Regions from separate parts of the Homo sapiens genome. Here region 2 is linked to region 1. Evidence: fine-mapped expression QTL. Tissue or cell type: whole blood. Region 1 holds a variant in brackets; the other region holds the start of a gene. All regions are shown on one strand. Distances are from middle to middle.

The links. PIP is the estimated chance that this variant, and not a neighbour inherited with it, causes the effect.
Region 2: it holds the start of AMN1-AS1, and the variant in region 1 is fine-mapped to the expression of AMN1-AS1 in whole blood (TOPMed, PIP 0.98).

The regions. Positions count from the first base shown.
Region 1 is chr12:31,818,406-31,828,977 of GRCh38, forward strand. No RefSeq gene overlaps it. Among named protein-coding and RNA genes, the nearest start is that of H3-5, 31 kb to the left of the region's middle. The variant T/C (reference allele first, on the strand shown) is at 5,008.
Region 2 is chr12:31,723,503-31,734,074 of GRCh38, forward strand. AMN1-AS1 (AMN1 antisense RNA 1) reads left to right here and starts at 5,763. Exons shown (of 1, transcript NR_198987.1): 1 at 5,763-7,702. AMN1 (antagonist of mitotic exit network 1 homolog) reads right to left here and starts at 5,519. Exons shown (of 7, transcript NM_001113402.2): 1 at 5,469-5,519. The coding sequence starts at 5,506. It overlaps LOC105369722 (a long non-coding RNA gene), which reads left to right and starts at 287. Exons shown (of 3, transcript XR_931497.3): 1 at 287-415; 2 at 1,066-1,137; 3 at 5,155-5,388. RefSeq lists a silencer at 5,308-5,387, enhancers at 5,438-5,787, 5,800-6,432, 5,828-6,027, 9,718-10,572 and a cis regulatory region at 9,457-9,684.

The DNA of each region.
Region 1 (10,572 bases):
AGCCTCCCGAATAGCTGGGATTACAGGTGCCCGCCACCACACCCAGCTAATTTTTGTATTTTTAGTAGAGGCGGGTTTTCACTATGTTGGCCAGGCTGGTCTCGAACTCCTGACCTCAAGTGATCCACCCACCTCAACCTCCCAAAGTGTTGGGATTACAAGTGTGAGCTGCTGTGCCTGTCCAGTAACTGGTAAGTATTGACAGAATCAGTTTACTTAAAGGAGAGTGAAACTGGAATAACAGGAGTTATATAGTTTTAAGAGATACTTTATCCAAACTGAAATAAACCATTCTTATCCCACAATAGTATATAACTATGGAACAACTAGAGTATTTGTGTCCACTATAGTAAATTTCTCTGGACTCTGAATAGTGAGAGCTAATCAGTGCAAAATCTTGCTCTCTGGCTGTCCTTTACTTATCTCTTCTGACCTTTGTTTTGATTGCAAACTTTCTTTGGACAGTATAAAAATCAGTATTTTAGGATTAGAACCCAATCAATATATTGAGTTCAGTTACATTCTAGTTCTTTCTGCCTGATATTACACTCCAATTGCCTTAATGGATCTTGAGTGCTTCCAGATATTCTTATTAAATATTTGTCATTTTTCTTTTGGCTTTGTTAATTGTGACTTATGCCATGCATAATTTTTTGCTTAGTAGTCAAATTTATCATTCTAAAACAATCTCTTCTGTGTTTTGCATTATACTTGGAAGGTCAAGGACCTTAGAGACATACTTCTGGCTATTGGATGTAGACTTTCTTTCTTTTTTTTTTTTTTTTTTTTTTGAGTCAGTGTTTTGCTCTGTCCTCAAGCCTCGAGCGCAGTGGTACAATCACAGCTCACTGCTGCCTCCACCTTCAGGGCTCAAGCAATCCTCCCACCTCAGTCTCCTGAGTAGCTGAGACTATGCCCAGCTAATTTTTTATTTTTTGTAGAGATGGGGTCTCACTATGTAACCCAGGCTTGTCTTAAACTCCTGGGCTCAAGGGATCCTTTTGCCTCAACCTCCCAAAGTGCTGGGATTACAGGTGTGAGCCACCACACCTGGCTGCAAATAGACTTTCAATAAAAAAAACTTTCATTCCAGGATCATCAGTGCAGGAGTAAGCTAGTTGACCTGGTAACAAAACACATGACCTCAATAATAAACAGGAACTCCTAAAGACAATAAGAGGTAAGATCTTAGGAAAAAAAAAAAAAGTTTTCCTCATTCTTGACCTGTGAAACAATTTCCTGGCTTATATTAGAAACAATCATTTTGCCAGTTCTTGTTTTGTTTCATTTTGGCAGGGTCTGGTGCTGGTGCTCTCTTCTATGTAATAAGGTGCCGGATACGTACCTACTTACAAGAAAGATTATTTGTGTCTTCAAAGCAGGTTTACTTTTGTTCATAAAGCAAAATAAAATAGCATACTAGTCATCTGCTACTTATTTTAATTTATGGTTGTTTGTGTTTACACAAGAAAGAGGGCCTTTTGTGAAAAGTAAATGATTTACATATCAGAGATAATTAAGATAACCCTATGCCTCTGATGAGCAACCTCACATTTTAACCATCTTGCTATAAATCTATATAGATCAACTGAAATTTATACACCTTAGTCACACCCAAATTTATTATCTTTAACTTCAAGATCGATTATCTCCTGTCACATCAAAGTAAAATTGTCTGTTACAGAAATATATATGTGAGCATGCAACTGCATAAAAATAAGGCAGCTTTTAGTGTATTTTGTGCATATTGCCATAAATTTGTACAGAGTGACATTCTAATGATATTTCTTTTATTTTCAGATTTATAAATATGTGATTACATATTGTGGAAAAATAATGCTATAGGCTCTGTATTTCAGTTATTATTATATCTTATTCATTCTTTACTGCATTTATGCCAGTAAAATTGATCTCACAGGCCTGCTTTTTGCTTATAATGCTAACTAATGAAAATCCAGAGCTTGGCTTATCAATGTGAGCCTTTGTAATTAACAGAAGTCTTGGAAATAAATAAAGGATATGCTCCTCTCCCCTATAGCACAGAGAGGAGGATGTCTTTCTGAGATATAACACATATTCAAAATATCTGATTTTGTAAAGTGTCAAATGGTCGATATTGACAAAAATATCAATCTTTTTTCTCTTTTGTGCAATATGGAGAGTGGTGTGAATCTTCGGTTTCTTATTGTAAGTCATTTTCTTTGAAAAAAGAGTTTTATAAAACTAAGACTTAGAAACTTACTTGCCCTGGCCTTGAAAATTACCTTTGGAAAAATGCTTGTGCTTTATGGGTCCTGAGAATATACTACTTTTGAGATTTGTCAGGACGCATTTGGCTGAGTAACAGGTTATTCTCATGGCTAAAAGCCTATTACAGCAAAGGATATTATACAGGATCAGCAGAAAAAAGTTATGCCTACAAGAAGACCCGAAAGATTAGGTGCAGACTTCTAGGTTCTCCCTCCATGCTGGTCACAGTAAGGTGCTTTTGGCACGACTACAAATTATACGAACATATATGAGATGTCTCTGCCCACGTAAGTCCACTTAGGTCTGAGGTCCCGGAGTTCTTACAGGAGTCTGGTTGCACAAGGCACATTCCTCCCACGTGACAATCTATGGTGCAGATCTTTACCCAGGAGGCAGGTGCTCATGGCACATCTTGATATTTGTGTTAGGCAGTGCTGGCAATTGAGCATGTCATGCCTCAGTGCCTCAGGAGCACAAAACAACTTCATTGGTGACTATGTTAACTCCAAGGACTTAGCCCCAAGTGGTTGGCTAAGGGTTGGTACCGTGACTCCAGGTACTCCTGGAAATAAGCTGAGTGAACTCCTTTCTCATAGATTATAATTCTGATTGGTAGCTTTACTTGATAATTTGTTGCCCTGATAGTAATGTTGTAATTGACATTTCTGCATGTGTAAATAGGATAAATTCTTGAAAGATTACTCTGCAAATCTGATCATTTGTTTCTCATCTCTTTTTTTTATATTTTATTTTATTTTATTTATTTATTTTTTTTTTGAGACAGATCTTGCTCTGTCACCCAGGATGGAGTGCAGTGGTTGTTCGCTGCAACCTCCACTTCCTGAGTTCAAGCGATTCTTGTGCCTCACCTTCCCAAGTAGCTGGGATTACAGGCACGGGCCACCATGCCCGGCTAATTTTTGTGTTTTTAGTAAAGATGAGAATTCACCATATTGGCCAGGGTGATCTCAGACTCCAGGCCTCAGGTGATCTGCCCAACTCTCCACCTCACAAAGTACTGGGATTACAGGTGTCAGCCACCACATCTGGACTGTTCCTCTTTTCTTTTGTGTATAATGGGGTTGGGTGGGGTGGTAGGGAGAAAAGTCTGACTTTGCTAGATTTCTTATTTTAACAAAGAATCTGTGAGTCTTTTCTAGGTAAAATTAACAACTAGCAAGGGGTTCTAGCAGAGTGTAATTTCAAAATACTCTATTATGCTTGTAAAATAAACTATTCACAATACATAGTGTGGTATAATAATAACAGATGTTTTTGTCAGCCTAAAAATAATGAGTTGAAGGTTCTAACGGTTGCCTTTATAGAAAATAACATCTTTGGCCGGGCGCGGTGGCTCACGCCTGTAATCCCAGCACTTTGGGAGGCCGAGGCAGGCGGATAGCCTAAAGTCAGGAGTTTGAGACCAGCCTGGCCAACATGGTGAAACCCTGTCTCTACTAAAAATACAAAAATTAGTTGGGCGTGGTGGCAGGTGCCTGTAATCCCAGCTACTGGGGAAGCTGAGGCAGGAGAATCGCTTGAACCCGGGAAGCGGAGGTTGCAGTGAGCCGAGATCACACCATTGCACTCTAGCCTGGGCAACAAGAGCAAAACTCCGTCTCAAAAAAAAAGCAAGTAACATCTTTGTCCAGGCGCGGTGGCTCACGCCTGTAACCCCAGCACTTTGGGAGGCCGAGGTGGGCAGATCATTTGAGGTCAGAAGTTTGAGACCAGCCTGACCAACATGGTGAAACCCTGTCTCTACTAAAAATACAAAAAAAATTAGCCTGGTGTGGTGGCACATGCCTGTAGTCCCAGCTACTTCGGATGCTGAGGCAGGAGAATCTCTTGAACCCGGGAGGTGGAGGTTGCAGTAAGTGGAGATCGTGCCACTGCATTCCAACCTGGGTGACACAGTGAGACTCTGTCTCAAATAAATAAATAAATAATAACATCTTCACTGAGATACAGGTATACTTCAGAGATAAGCCCATATATCAGGAATATCAGGTTTTGTGATATCAGGTTTTGTTCTAGACCACTGCCATAAAGTGAATATTGTGATAAAGCAAGTCACACAAATTTTTTGGTTTCCCAGTGCATGTAAAAGTTATGCTTACACTATACTGTAACCTACTAGGTATGCAATAACATTATGTCATAAATGTGCAACATAAATACACTAATTATAAAATACTTTATTGCTGAAAAAATGCTAACAATCATCTGAGCCTTAATTGAGTTGTCATCTTGTGTCATCAGCAAAAAGCTGGTGGAGAGTCTTGCCTCAACATGGATGACTTCTGACTGATCTGAGTGGTGGTTGCTGAAGGCTGGAGTGGATGTGGCAACTTCTTCAAATCAGACAACAAAAAAGTTTGCTGCATTGATGGACTCATTTTTAAAATATTTTATTTTATTTCAATAGTTCTTGGGGAACAGGTGGTTTTGCTTACATGGATACTTTCTTTAGTGGTGATTTCTGAGATTTTGGTGCAACTGTCACTTGAGCATTGTACACGGTGCCCGATCTATAGTCTTTTATCCCTCACTCCCCTCCCACCTTTTCCTGAGTCTCCAAAGTCCAAAGTCTATTGTATCATTCTTATGCTTTTGCATCCTCATAGCTTAGCTCCCATTTATAAGTGAGAACATACAATATTTCGTTTTCCATTCCTAAATTACTTCACTTAGAATAATGGCCTCCCGCTCCATCCAAGTTGCTGCAAATGCCATTATTTCGTTCCCTTTTATGGT[T/C]GAGTAGTATTCCATGGTGCATATATACCACATTTTCTTTATCCAGTCATTGATTGATGGGCACTTAGGTTGGTTCCATATCTTTGCGATTGTGAATTGTGCTGCTGTAACCATGCACATGCAGGTGTCTTTTTCATATAATGACTTCTTTTCCTTTGGGTAGATACCCAGTAGTGGGATTGCTAGATGGAATGGTAGTTCTATTTTTAGTTCTTTAAGTAATCTCTACACTGTTTTCTGTAGTGGTAAATGCGTTTGCATTTACTTTACACTCCCATCAGCAGTGTAGAAGTGTTCCCTTTTCACCACATCCATGCCAACATCTATTAGTTTTTGATTTTTTAATTATGGGCATTCTTGCAGGAGTAAGCTGGTATCTCATTGTGGTTTTAATTTGCATTTCCCTGATAATTAGTGATGTTGAGCATTTTTTCATATGTTTGTTGGCCATTTGTATATTTCTTTTGAGAATTGTCTGTTCATGTCTTTTTCCCTCTTTTGGATGGTGTTATTTGGTTTTTTCTTGCTGATTTATTTGAGTTACTTGTAGATTCTCAATACTAGTCCTTTGTTGGATGCATAGTTTGTGAATAATTTCTCCCACTCTGTGGGTTGTCTGTTTACTCTGTTAATTCTTTCTTTTGCTGTGCAGAGCTTTTTTGTTTAATTAGGTCCCATCTAATTATTTTTGTTTTTGTTGCATTTGCTTTTGGGTTCTTGGTCATGAACTCTTTGCCTAAACCAATGTCTACAAGAGTTTTTCTGATATTATCTTCTAGGGCATTTTTATGGTTTCGGGAGTTAGATTTAAGTCTGTGATCCATCTTAAGTTGATTTTTGTGTAAGATGAGAGATGAGGATCCAGTTTCATTCTTCTACATGTGGCTTGCCAATTATCCCAGCACCATTTGTTGAATAGGATGTCCATTCCCCACTTTATGTTTTTGTTTGCTTTGTCGAAGATCAAATAGCTGTAAGTATTTGGCTTTATGTCTGGGTTCTCTATTCTGTTCCACTGGTCCTATGTTCCTATCTTCTTCATACCAGTACCATGCTGTTTTGGTAACCACAGGCTTGGAGTATAGCTTGAAGTTGGGTAATGTGATGCCTCCAGATTTATTCCTTTTATGTAGTATTGCTTTGGCTATGCGGGCTCTTTTTCGGTTCCATATGAATTTTAGAATTTTTTTTCTAGTTCTTTCTTTTTTTGAGACGGAGTCTCGCTCTGTTACCCAGGCTGGAGTGCAGTGGCGCAATCTCGGCTCACTGCAAGCTCCGCCTCCCGGGTTCACGCCATTCTCCTGCCTCAGCCTCCCAAGTAGCTGGGACTACAGGCGCCCGCCACCACGCCCGGCTAATTTTTTGTATTTTTAGTAGAGGCGGGGTTTCACTGTGTTAGCCAGGATGGTCTCGATCTCCTGACCTCATGATCTGCCCACCTCTGCCTCCCAAAGTGCTGGGATTACAGGCGTGAGCCACCGCGCCCAGCTTTTTTTCTAGTTCTGTGAAGAATGATGATGGTATTTTGATGGAAATTGCATTGAATCTGCAGATTGCTTTTGGCAGTATGTTCATTTTCGCAATATTGATTCTACTGATCCATGAGCATGGGATATGTTTCCATTTGTTTGTGTCATCTATTATTTCTTTCAGCATGTTTTGTTTATGTTATTTCTTTCAGCATGTTATTTCTTTCAGCATATTCCTTGCAGAGGCCTTTCACCTGCTTTGGTAAGTATATTCTTAAGTATTTTGTGGCTTTTTTGGTTTTGTTTTGTTTTGTTTTGCTTTTGTTGTTTTGTTTTGTTTTTTCCAGCAATGTTGCAAAAGAGATTGAGTTCTTGATTTGATTCTCAGCTTGGTTGCTGTTGGTGTATAGCAGTGCTACGGATTTGCGTACAGTGATTTTGTATTCTGAAACTTTACTGAACAGGGACAGTTTGACTTCCACTTTATTGATTTGGATGCCCTTTGTTTCTTTTTCTTGTCTGATTGCTCTGGCTAGGACTTCCAGTACTATGTTGAATAGAAGTAATAAAAGTGGGCATCCTTGTCTTGTTCCAGTTCTCAGAGAGAATGCTTTCAACTTTTCCCCAATCAGTATAATGCTGGCTGTGGTGGACTCTTCCTTTCACAAAAGATTTCTCTAGGATGTTATGCTGTTTGATAGCATTTTACTCATAGTAGAACTTCTTTCAAAATTGTAATAAATCCTTTTAAAGGTGCTTTATCAACTAAATTTATGGAATATTCTAAATCCTTCATTATCATTTCAACAATATCCACAGCATCTTCACCAGGAATATATTCCCTCTCAAGAAACCACTTTCTTTGCTCATCCATAAAAAGCAACTCTTCATCCATTAAAGCTTTTTTTAGCATGTGATTGAAGCAATTCAGTCACATCTTTAGGCCCCACTTATAATTCCAGTTCTCTTGCTATTTCCACTACATCTTCAGTTACTTCTTCTACTGAACTCTTGAACTCTTCAAAGTCATCCATGAAGATTAAAATCAATTTCTTCCAAACTCCAGTTCATGTTCATATTTTGACCTACTTACATGAATCAAATGGCACCTAAAATGGTGAATCCTTTCCAAAAGGTTTTCAATCCACTTTGCCCAGATTCATCAGAGGAATCACTATCTGTAGCAGCCATCGTCTTACAAAATGTATCTCTTAGATAAGAAGGCTTGAAAGTCAGAATTGCCCCTTAATTCATGGGCTGCTAAGTGGATATGTTAGGATGCATGAAAACAACATTAACCTTCTTGTACATCTCCATCAGAGCTCTTGGGTGACCAGGAACATTGTCCATGAGTAGTAATATTTTGAAAGGAAGGTTTTTTTTTGGAGCAGTAGGTCTCAACAGTGGGATTAAAATATTCGGTCAATTGGCCAGGTGTGGTGGTTCATGCCTGTAATCCCAGCACTTAGGAGGCTGAGGCAGGTGGATTTGTTGAGCTCAGGAGTTCAAGACCAGCCTGGGCAACATGGCAAAACCCTGACTCTACCAAAAATATAAAAAAATTAGCCAGGCATGGTGGTATGCACCTGTAGTCCCAGCTACTCAGGTGGCTGAGGTGGGAGGCTCACTTGAGCCCAGTAGGTAGAGGTTGCAGTAAGCCAAGATCAGACCACTGCACTACAGCCTGAATGACAGAGGGAAACCCTGTCTCAAAAAATAATAATAATAATAGTAATTCAGTAAATCATGCTGTAAACAGATGTGCTGTCATTCAGACTTTTTTGTTACAATTATAGAGCAATAGAGTAGATTTAGCATAATTCTTTTTTTTTTTTTTTTCTGAGATGTAGTGTCACTCTACTGCCAAGGCTGGAGTGCAGTGCCACAATCTCAGCTCACTGCATCCTCTGCCTCCTGGGTTCAAGCAGTTCCCCTGCTTCAGCCTCCCTAGTAGCTAGGATTATGGGTGTGCACCACCACACCCGGCTAATTTTTATATTTTTAGCAGAGACAGGGTCTCACCATGTTGGCCAGGCTGGTCTCAAACTCCTGACCTCAAGTGATCTGCCTGCCACAGCCTTCCGAAGTGCTGAGATTATAGGCGTGAGCCACCGCGACTGGCCCAACTTAGCATAATTCTTACGAGCCCTAGGATTTTCAGAATGGTCAGTGAGCACTGGCTCCAACTTAAAGTCATTGGTTGCATTAGTCCCTAACAAGAGTCAGCCTGGGCCAGGCACAGTGGCTCACACCTGTAGATAGTGTGGAGTTATGCAGACGACTTTACAGATAAGTTACTCAACAACTAAAGAGATGAGAGGAGTTTCCTATAAAAACTTTTAAAAAATCAGGCCGGGCATGGTGCCTCACGCCTGTAATCCCAGCACTTTGGGAGGCCGAGGTGGGTGGATCACCTGAGGTCAGGAGTTTGAGACCAGCTTGACCAACAAGGTGAAACCCCATCTCTACTAAAAATACAAAAGTTAGCCGGGCATGGTGGCAGGCACCTGTAGTCCCAGCTACTCGGGAGGCTGGGACAGAAGAATTGCTTGAACCTGGGAGGTGGAGGTTGCAGTGAGCCAAGATCATGCCACTGCATTCCAGCCTGGGTGACAGAACAAGACTCCATCTCCAAAACAAACAAACAAACAAAAAACACACAAAAAAACTTCTGGCCGGGTGCGGTGGTTCATGCCTGTAATCCCAGCACTTTGGGAGGCCAAGGTGGGTGGATCACCTGAGGTCAGGAGTTTGAGGCCAGCCTGGCCAACAAAGTGAAACCCTATCTCTACTAAAAAATACAAAAATTAGCCAGGTGTGGTGGCAGGTGCCTGTAATCCCGCTACTTGGGAGGCTGAGGCAGGAGAATTGCTTGAATCCGGGAGGTGGAGGTTGCAGTGAGCCAAGATCGCACCATTGCACTCTAGCCTGGGGGACGAGAGCAAGACTTCATCTCAAAAAACAAACAAACAAACAAACAAACAAACAAACCAAAAACCTTTTAAATTAAACTGTAAAAACGGCAGCCCACTTGGGCTCCCCTCTCCACTATAGATAGCTTTCTTCTTTCATTTATTAAACTTTCACTCCAACCTCACGCTTTGCATCCACATTCCTTAATTTGCATGGTCATAAGACAAAGAACTCCTGGTGATACTACACAACAAGAGACTACTACATTATGGTATATTGATGAGACTGTAGCAGTATTTAGAGAGATCCAACATATATTTCAAGTCTTTTTTCATCTGAAGTCACACAGGATGTATTTTCTCTCTAGAAATGAACATATGTGAAATGTCTCTGCTCAGGGAAGCCCATTCAGGTTTCAGAGTCTAAGGCTTTTATCAGGGACCAATCACAAAGACATATCCTGTTATGCGATTAGCCATAGCAACCAAAACTCAGGATCACAACAATGAGACCAGGGGTACATCATCAATCTCAATGTTTGTGCAAAGCAAATTAGCAAGCCAGCATGGCATGGTACATTGCTCCAAGTGTACACAACAAAATCATCAATTAGTGACATAAAGAACATCCTAAGAACATTTCCGAGGGTTTGCCAAGGGTCAATCATGATTCCAGGCTCCCTTGGAGGTGTAAGGACTGAGCAACTAGACCTACTTGCTATGTAGATTTATCTCAGAAATGGCCTCTTAAAGAGAATTCTCATCATTCTAGTACCTCATTTGTCAACAGGATTTATACACTAAAATTCAATCTTCCTAAAGAATTGAGAACAAATTTAATAAGGAGTAAACTCAGATTGCAAAGATAATTGTAAAGAAGTTAATGGAGGAAGTCCTAGCCAGAGCAATCAGACAAGAGAAAGAAATAAAGGGTACCCAAATTGGAAAAGAGGGAGTCAGACTGTTACTATTCACTCATTATATGATTGTATACCTAGAAAACCCTAAAGACTCATCCAAAAAGCTCCTAGATCTGATAAATGAATTCAGTAAAGTTTCAGGCTACAAAATCCATGTACACAAATCAGTACCACAGCTATACACCAACAGCGACCAAACTGAGAATCAAATCAAGAACTCAATCCCTTTTACAACAGCTGCAAAAAATATATACATAAAATAAA
Region 2 (10,572 bases), 95 kb before region 1:
GGTTTCACCATGTTAGCCAGGATGGTCTCGATCTCCTGACCTCGTGATCCACCCGCCTCGGCCTCCCAAAGCAGACCACTTTCACTCTGACAATGATAGGTCTTTTACTGCAAAGGTTGCTCAACAATGAGCCGATAGTCAAGGTATTCAACAGATGTTTCACACCCCTTATCATCCTCAGGCTGCTGCCATTTCTTTATGTGTTGTCTGTGGCTGCTTGTGTTCTACAATGGCAGAGCTGAGTAACTGTGTCAGAGGGTGTGTAGCCTACAAAGCTGAAAATATTACTCTCTGGCCCTTCACAGAAAGGTTACCAACTCCTGCCCTAGATAACAAAGATAACTACCACTTGGTTGAGGATACTGCTCACCAAGTACCCCTACAGTGACCCACACCAGTCAAGCAAGGAAACAAGGTAAGTCTGTGTAAACTTTATAAAAATGCTCTTGTTCCTCTTGCACATGACCTCTGTGAGTAGGGGATTAGAGAAAAGTAAAGCATTTGAAGTGACTGACAATCACTCCTGTTATATAGCAGATCCCCTTTATCCATGGGAAAAACATTCTAAGACTCCCTGTGGACACCTGAAATCATGGATAGTACTGAATCCTAAATCCTATATATACACCCTGCATTTACTATGCAGACATACCTGTGGTAAAGTTTAATATATAAATTAGGCACAGTAAGAGATGAACAACAACAACAATAAAATAGAACAGTTATAACAACATCTACAAGGATTGGGTGGAAAAATAAAAAATACATGTAACAATATGCCAGCATCAGTACTCTTGTGCTCTGGTGCAATTGTTAAGTAATATCAGGGTTATGTGAATGCAGTAGCCCTGCGACAATAGCTCTGATAACCAAGAAGGCTACTAAATGGACAGCATGGATATGCTGAACGAAGGCAGAATTCACATCCTGGGCAGACAGGGCAGGGTGGCATGAGATTTCATCATGCTACTCAAAATGGTGCATAATTTAAAATTTATGAATTGTTTCTTCCTAGAATTTTCCATTTAACATATATATATATTTTTTTACCATGGTTGACTGCAGGTACCTGAAACTGCCGAAACAAAACAGCACATAAGGAGAGACTACTGTATTTTGCTTTATGCAAGATTTCAGGTATATTTCAATATGTTACCTTTTTCCTACAACATGGCTCTCTGCCCCCCACCGCCACCTTTTTCTCTCAGTCTCTTTCATCTTAGCCCTTTAGTATGCTCTTCTCTGAGCTCAGCAGTGCAGAGGCTGTACCATGTGTTTCCCAAAGTAAATGGTTTCCTCTTTCTGCTCCAGTTCCCTCCAGCTGCAATAGCAGGGAGTTGGGACAGAAACAAATCAAATAGTTCTTAAAATTCTGGGAGGACTATTGAATGGCCACAAAGCCCATCCAGAAACCCTGCTGGTCAAACAAATTGATTAAATTTGTCAAATCATGTATTACATTTACTACAGCAAGGGAGATCATCTTGACAGGGTTTTGGTAGCATTTCAATAGAGGAATGTTAGGCAAGAGTATACATAAGTTTCTGGGATATAAACGCCACCAGTTTAAGTGGGTGCTTCTCCCCCCACAGTGGCGAATGGGTAAGGATTAGGCAAAGTTTGTGACTTAGTTTAAAACGGATGGACACAAAAAGCCAGGCTTGATGAGCAATCTGTCCAGATAAACATAATGTTTGTCCTAAAAATCAAAATGTTTGTCCTGATAGCTGTTTATTTAGATAAACTGATTTGCAAAAATTTCCTAGAGCAAAAAGTTAGGTTGACATAAGTGGTGTTGATTCTCAGGCCCCACAGTTGGCACAGGCAGTCTCATTTCTCAAGACAAAATGAAAAGAAGTCAGCTAAAACTTATAATCTTTAAAAGCTGTAAAACAATTGGGGAGACGGGTGGATATCCCAACCAATAATAGTTGCTCTACGTTTTATACTTAAAAGAAACAACCTATTACTATTTGGCCAAATCATCATATGGTGAATTGATCTAACAAATAAAAGAGTTTTGGCAACATGGACTGCTTCTAATGTAAGTGTTACATAAAATTTTGTCCTTGACTTTCTTTTTTTCTCTCTATAGCCCTCTTTTAAACTTAACCATGGCTTCCTATCATCTACAAAGTTATACCCCCAATCTTAGTTTCAATCCTTGATCTCTCTTCATTTTATTTGTGTATTTATGTATTTATTTATTTAGAGATGGAGTCTCACTCTGTTGCCCAGGCTGGAGTGCAGTAGCACCATCTTGGCTCACTCCAAGCTCCGCCTCCTGGGTTCAAGCAATTCTCCTGTCTCAGCCTCCCAAGTAGCTGGGAATACACATGTGCACCACCATGCCCAGTTAATTTTTTTTGTATTTTTGGTAGAGACAGGGTTTCACCATGTTGGCTAGGCTGGTCTCGAACTCCTGACCTCAAGTGATTCACCTGCCTCGGCCTCCCAAAGTGTTGGGATTACAGGCATGAGCCACTGCACCCAGCCTAATCCTTGATCTTTCTTTCAGATTCAAAATTATATTCTAACTGCCTGCTTGATATTTCTACTGGATATTCTGATTCATTTTCCCCGTAAGACACTTCTTCCTCCATAATAGTCTAATCACCATTCTACCTGTCAACGAAGCTAAAACTAAAAGAGTAATTTCTTTTTTTTTTTTTTGGGGGGACGGAGTTTCGCTCTTGTTGCCCAAACTGGAGTGCAATGGTGCAAGCTCGGCTCACCGCAACCTCTGCCTCCCAGGTTCAAGCGATTCTCCCACCTCAGCCTCCCAAGGAGCTGGGATTACAGGCATGCACCACCACGGCCGGCTAATTTTGTATTTTTAGTAGAGACAGGGTTTCTCCATGTTGGTCAGACTAGTCTCGAACTCCCCACCTCAGGTGATCCACCTGCCTCAGCCTTCCAAAGTGCTGGGGTTACAGGCGTGAGCCACGGCCCCCAACTAAAAGAGTAATTTCTAATTCTTCTCTTTCCTCGGTCCCTCTATTCAAAACTATTCATGTCCCAGATCCAAAGGATTCTCTAAAGCAGTGTTAAAGTGCTGGTCAGTGAGGAGATAAGGAGTTTATGCAAGAACATAAACCAAGCCCTGTTTCCTTCATGGAGAAAGCCTCATCAGCTGGACTAAATAATGTGCTTAGTGACACACTTAATTACTAGTCTGGCTCAAGCTTCTTACTTTGTTACAAACCAGAAATAGCTTGCTGACCAACTGCCAGTCTCAGACTGTACCTTGTCCCAGAAGGGTACAAAATTAGGTTCTAAGGGCAAATATGGACCTTTACCTAGGGACCACACTCTAGCATGACAATGAAGATCATGTAGTCATCCCTGTCTTAGCCCCAAGTTCTGAAGAATTTTTCTTAACATTGTTAGTCTGTTTCCTCTTTTTTTCACTAAGCACTGTGTTTTAAAATTCTATCCAAATGAATCTACTCTTTGCTTTTCTTTCATTTATTTATCTATTTATTTATTTATTTTGAGACCAGGTTATGAGATTGGCTAACTTTTTATTTTTGGTAGAGACATGGTTTTGCCATGTTGCCTAGACTGGTCTCCAACTCCTGGCCTCAAGCAATCCACCCTCCTCAGGGTCCCAAAATGTTGGGATTACAGGTGTGAGCCACCATGCCTGGCCTACCCTTTGCTTTTCTAACAGCTGCATAATATTCCATGGTAACTCTCCCATTCCAGCTCCATGCCACCAGAAATAATTCTGCAAAGAACATCTTCATGTGTCTCCTGGTTTGGGCTCTTCACCTCTTAAGATTTTGTAACAGTCTTCTAAGTGTCTCCCTATTTCCAACTTCTGCCTAATTCAAATCTCTCTCTGCTCACAGTACAGTTCTAAAACCTTTGATAGCTCCCCATGACTGAAAGAGGAAATGCTCTTACTTCATCCTGGTCCCTAAGATTCTATTCCCAATGACCTGGCTTTATGTCTCACTACTGTGCTATTCATATTGTATCTTCCATTCACATTGGAGCGCTACTTTCTGGTCTTCTCTCATATTTCTACCTTTCCTGCCTGTCAAACCTTTACTCTTTTTATTTCACTCTCTACGATACATTTCCTCCCATTTGCAACCGTCAGATACTACCAATGTTCAAAAATAACCCCCTTGACAAAGCTTTCTCCTATTCTTTTCCTTATTAGAAATTTCAAAAGTTTGTTACTCTCCCGCTTGTGATATTATTCTACATATATTATAGTTATTTATTTTATTTTTTTGAGACAGTCTCGCTCTGTCGCCTAGCAGCCTAGGCGTGCAGTGGCGCGATCTCAGCTCACTGCAACCTCTGCCTCCTGGGTTGAGGCGATTCTCCTGCCTCAGCCTCCAGAGTAGCTGGGACTACCGGCGCCACTACTACTCCTGGCTAATTTTTGTATTTTTAGTACATGCCGCGGTTTTGCCGTGCTGGCTAGGCTGGTCTCCAACTCTCCTGATCTCAAGTGCCTCGGCCTCCCAAAGTGCTGGGATTACAGGCGTGAACCACCGTGCCCAGATAATTTTTGTATCTTTAGTAGAGGCGGGGTTTCGCCACGTTGCCCAGGCTGGTCTCGAACTCCTGAGCTCAAGCAGTTCTCCCACCTCGGCCTCCCAAGTTTAATGTAAAATATCAGATGCCATTGTTTCAGAAAGCCTTCAGTAGATTAAGGAGATTGTTCTCCTTATCCTTAAGATGTCTATTTTTTACATGGCAATATTAACGGACTGAAAGCTCCTGGAGAGACGCAATTGCCCTTGTAACTTCCATTTCCGTACAATTTCTGGTAGGAAATAATAATAACAATAACACTTAGTGGTGTTTATTATTTGCTGGGCATCCTTATAAGGGTTTTACATGTTTTAAATTTATCCCTCAGGACAACTCCATGTGATGGGTGCTATTATCACAAAAATTTTATAGATAAAGAACCTAGGCACAGGGAGAGGTTACGTTACCGGTCCATGGTCACGTGGCTGGTGAATGGCAGAGCCGGGGGCTGAACCCAGCAATCTCAGCCAGGGATCCGTGGTCTTAACCACTTTGTTACCTTTATCCCAGGGTCTGTCAATGTTTATTCCAGTTACAGGGGTGGAATTCTGCTAGAAGCTTTTGAGAACCTCATCTAGCGTTGTGTTTTTTTCTACCAAGGCTTTTAGCTGCTAAGAGAGAGGCCACTGCCAGTAACAGCCGGGGCGCCGAGCTGTCAAGGCTGACGGAGGAATGGACGCTCATCGCGCAGCGGAGTGTTGGAGGGGCAAGCCCGCCAAGAGACCCACTTTGCACAACTGTCCTCAGCCAGGAAACGACAGATCAGGAACCCAGGGACAGAAACACACGCGGGGCCTCTTCAGAGGTCGGCGGGGGGGGTGGGAAAGGGGCGGGGAGGAAGAGCAGCGCAGGGCCTGGCCGTTTGGAGGAGGTGCTGGGGCGGCGCGAAGGGAGGCGGGACAGGGTAGACTCACAGATCCAGGAGCTGACTGACCCGCCGTGGGCGAGGCATCGCTGCAGCGTCTGAAGCCTCTTCCGCGGTCCCAGGGCCTCCAGAACCCAGCCAGGGACCGTCCGCCAACTCCCGCCCACCGCGCGACGCGTAGGTTTTTGTGACGTCACACGGATTTTTCCGGTGACCGGGGCGTGGCCACGCTTCGGACTCCACAAGGAAAGAAGAGAGCCCCCTTTGGGGCGGAGCCACTGAGGGCTGCGCGGAAGAGGCTGGGTGTGATAAACTATAAAGAGGCCCTAAACTCGGATGCAACGTGACGGGAGTTGTAGTTCTTTCACCTGGCGGGCGTCTGCTCCGGTTCAGCTGCAGGAGGTTTCTTGGGAGTTCAGCCCAGCGCGCAGCCCCGCCGCGACGCCGCGAGCCGAGAACTCTCCTGGGGCGAAGGGAGCGCTGAGAAGTCGCTACTCTTACTAAAAGGATGCGTTGGATGCTGGGCCATACCCTTGGCGATGCACACTGGAGACCCGCTCGGATACGGACTCCATTAACATCAAACGGAGCGTGTTAGAGGATCCGAGTTTACTGAGCACTTTCTAGGAAGCGTGCACTGAGCTACGTGCTTTCTAGGCCTTAGTTCAATACTTAACCATATTCATTATAATCCGGTGAAATCGTAATTATTTAGCCTTATTTTACAGATGAGGACACTGCGTACCAACAAGTAACCTCACTAAGAATTTCGTCATGGAGGAGAAGGGAACCTGTATTCAAATTAGGAAGGATCCTGAAGAAAGGGCACCTTTAGGTGGAATTTTATCTTTGGTTCTGCTGCAGAGTACTTGCTGCTTTTTAGTGCTCCCTCCACCCCCCTCATTCTTCCTTGTAGATTAGTCTGTTGTTTGTATGCTGAGTTCCTTTTTTAAGCTCCTTGAAAGTTGGAACCCACTGCTGTTGCCTGTTCAGGATGCTACACATTGAATCAACATGGATTTATTAAGCGCTGAACGAGGGCTAGGGATCGTGCTGGGTGCTGAGGATTGAGTGGCGAACACTTGGGTCAGACAAGTAAAAGGGCAATTAGAATAACTGTTAAATGCTTAGATGGGGTTAGTTCTATGGAAGCACCCATGGGGGTGGGATACAGATCAGAGAGAAAAGGGTGGTCTGCAAATAGTTTGGGATGGCTACACTGGAGAGTGATCAAGAGTGAGTGTAGGGCAGGGGTTGGCCGACTTTTTCCATAAAGTGCTCTGAAAGTTGCAGATTCCAGGAGAAGTAACTATTGTCAGACCCAGACAAATTGGAGCCTAGAGACCAGAAAGGAAGGAAACTCATGCTTGTATGTCTGAGATAAGAACTGTCTCAAGGCCAGACGCGGTGGCTCACACCTGTAATCCTAGTACTTTGGGAGGCCGAGGCGGGCGGATCACGAGGTCAGGAGTTTGAGACCAGCCTGGCCAACGTGGTGAAATTCCCGTCTCTACTAAAAATACAAAAAAAAAAAAAAAAAACTGGGTGTGGTGGCGGGCGCCTGTAATCCCAGCTACTGAGGAGGCTGAGGCAGGAGAATCGCTTGAACTCGGAGGAGGTTATAGTGAGCCGAGATCGTGCCACTGCACTCCAGCCTGGGCGACAGAGCAAGACTCCGTCTCAAAAAAAAAAAAAAAGAAAGAACGAACTGCCTCAAGGACTTTAAAAAATAAACCAAAAAACCCACAATTTCTTCACATCTTTCATGCATTTAATGTTTTGCACAACTTGCTTGTTTTGCAAATATGCGCACATTTCTATGACAAGATTTATTGCTAAATATTCTTTAAAACTGCAGCAGTTCAGATAAGATACTGTCGAAAGGACGTTTGGCCCAGCAGCAGGACCTCCACCAATGAACGGACTCCAATTCTTGATTTGAGCCTTGGGAACCAATCAACTTAGTTTCCAAGAGTTTATGTGAACTTCCCTCCTTTACCAGTAAAATCTTCCCCCTATTCTTCCCTTCTCCAGACCCGTGGCTTGCCATAGCTGTACATCTTGGATTATAATTCTTTTTGTTCACTCCCAAAGAAACTCAGTATCTTTGGAGAATTCTTTCTTTGTTGTCTTTTAGCTTCCCAGAGCCAAACAAGAAATATTTTAGGTTTTGTGGGTCATGCTGGCTTGGTCACAGCTATTCAACTTGTATCTTAAAATTAGCCATAGACAGTATGAATGGGTGGGTCTCTGTTCCAATAAAACCTTATCCTAAACACTGAAGTTTGAATTTTATGTAATTTTCAACTGTCATGAAATACTCATCTTTTGATCTTTTTCAGCCACTGAAAAATGTAAAAGCCATCCTTAAGTTGCAAGCTATACAAAAACAGACAGTGGACTGGATTTGACCCTTGAGCCATTTGTCCATGTGCCCTCACCTGATCTAGAAAGCTAAAATGCACATGCCTCACGCCTGTAATCCCAGCACTTTGGGAGGCCAAGGTGGGCGGATCAGCTGAGGTTAGGAGTTCGAGACCAGCCTGGGCAATATGGAGAAACTCTACTAAAAGTACAAAAAAATTAGCTGGGCGTGGTGGCAGGTGCCTGTAATCCCAGCTACTCAGGAGGCTGAGGCAGGAGAATTGCTTGAACCCAGGAGGCGGAGGTTGCACTGAGCCGAGATCACACCACTGTACTCCAGCCTGGGCAACAAGAGTGAGACTCTACCTCAAAAAAAACAAAGAAATTACGAATTTTAAGATGGTGATAGCAGAGCACTAAACCCAGAGTGGGGCCCGTGTGACTGCACATTTTGCCCACCCATGAAGCCAGCCCTGGGTGCGTCCAACTTCAGGATTCCCCCCCCCAAAAATCAGTTCAGGAACCCTATGTCAAAATAAAAATCAAAGACAAATATGAGCACAGAGAGACATTTTTACTTGCAGTTCAAGAAAATCAGACTTTCAGAGAGTGGCTCGCTAAATAGAATAGAGGAATTTATAGCTCAGATGAAATGGCAGATATTTATAGCTCAGATATGGCAGTTCATTCCAATTGGATAAGAACAAGATGTTCCTGTTTTGTGGTAAGGAAAACAGGATGTTCTTGTTTTTGTGGCTTATCTCTGGAGGCAAAGCTTTTAGGATTTCCCGTTAGTCAAGGCTTTTAGGAGGTTCCCGCTATTCATGGTTTATCTTTGAATGCAAAGTTATTGGGAATGAAAGTCTTTTCTAGTGTATGGTAAGTGATTTGTAGGCAGGGTTAGGCTAAGGGCAAGATATTTTCCTTTTCTCCTCTCTGTTTGCTGTGCCCACTTTAATATAGTTTCCTCTAGCTCAGAATCTCCTCCACTTCCTACCATAGCTACCATACAAAGTAAACGTTATCATAGATTGTTGCTGTGGGTTTGTTTTACTTTACTCCAGGCTGGAGTGCAGTGGCGCAATCTCGGCTCACTGCAACCTCTGCCTCTCGGATTCAAGCAATTCTCCCGCCTCAGCCTCCCAAGTAGCTGGGATTACAGGCATGTGCCACCATGCCAGGCTAATTTTTTTTTTTTTGTATTTTTAGTAGAGACGAGGTTTCACCATATTGGCTAGGCTGGTGTCGAACTCCTGACCTTGTGATCCACCTACCTCGACCTCCCAAAGTGCTGGGATTACAGGCGTGAGCCACCGTACCCGGCCTCTGGGTTTGTTTTATAAAAATAATTAACAAAATTACTTTTCTTAAATCATGCTGTTAATTCATAATGTAATATATGAGCTGTATGTGGACCCATGTTTTAAAATACAATAAATATATATAAAACAAGTATATCTTATTTATATGAATGTGTGCTTTCACAAGAACAGAACGGAGCTAAGCCAAGTGAGCCCCTACTTTATTATCCTACCATGTGTAGGTTATTTTCAAATAGGATTGCTCTTAACTCTCCAAGTGTCCTTTGAGAAAATAACACGTCTTTTTATTTAGTTTCTTTTCATAGCTTGTTTTATAATATCACACTCCAAATTGGAAATAACAGTGCCCATGCTCATGGATTGTTATACATTGTTGAAATTTCCCATTGGCTAGAAACACTTGCTTTGTTTCTAGGTTAGAGATCTGTGACTTTCAAATTCTCAGGAGTCTGAGTCATACAATGGATGACTCAGGATCCAAGCAGGTTAAGAGTTGGGCAAGTTCAAACAGGAGAAGCAAGGAGATGTTAATAAAGGAGCTGTTCCCAAAGGTGTGGACAGAGTTAGGGCAGAGCAAGGGTAAAGGTAGTTCAATACCATAGCGCTACAATAGCAGGAAGACCTTACCTCTTCTGGTCCTGGAGGGCAAAACCAAAACCTTGCCAGAGTGACCACAGGTGAAGCCACCTGAAAGGAACTGTGGCCTTTGAATTTGTAACCGCCTAAGGGGTTCACCTTGCCCCCTGCCTAGAAAGAACTGATTCATCAAGACGGGGGAATTACAATAGAGAAAGAGTAATTCACACAGAGCCAGCTGTGCGGGAGACAGTTTTATTATTACTCAAATCAGTCTCCCCAAGCATTTGGGGAGCAGAGTTTTTTTTTGTTTGTGTTTTTTTTTCAGAGTCTTGCTCTGTCACCCAGGCTGGAGTGCAGTGGCGCTGTCTTGGCTCACTGCAACCTCTGCCTCCTGGGTTCAAGTGATTCTCCTGCCTCAGCCTACCAAGTAGCTGAGATTACAGGCATGTGCCACCACGCCCGGCTAATTTTGTATTTTTAATAGAGACGGGGTTTCACTATGTTGGTCAGGCTGGTCTCGAACTCCTGACCTCGGGTGATCCACCCACCTCAACCTCCAAAAGTGCTGGGATTACAGGTGCGAGTCACCACGCCCAGCCAGGAGCAGAATCTTTAAGGATAAATTGGTGGGTTGGGGGAAGCCAGTGACCCGGGAGTGCTGATTGGTCAGGACGGAAATGAAATCATAGGGAGTTGAAGCTGTCTTCTTGTGCTGAGTCACTTCCTGGGTGGGAGCCACAAGATCAGATTAGCCAGTTTATCCATCTGGGTGGTGCCAGCTGATCCGGCAATTGCAGGGTCTGGAAAATATCTCAAGCACTGAGATATTTGAAGAAAATCTTGAAGCCTCTAGTTGCATGACTCTTAAACCATAATTTCTAATCTTGT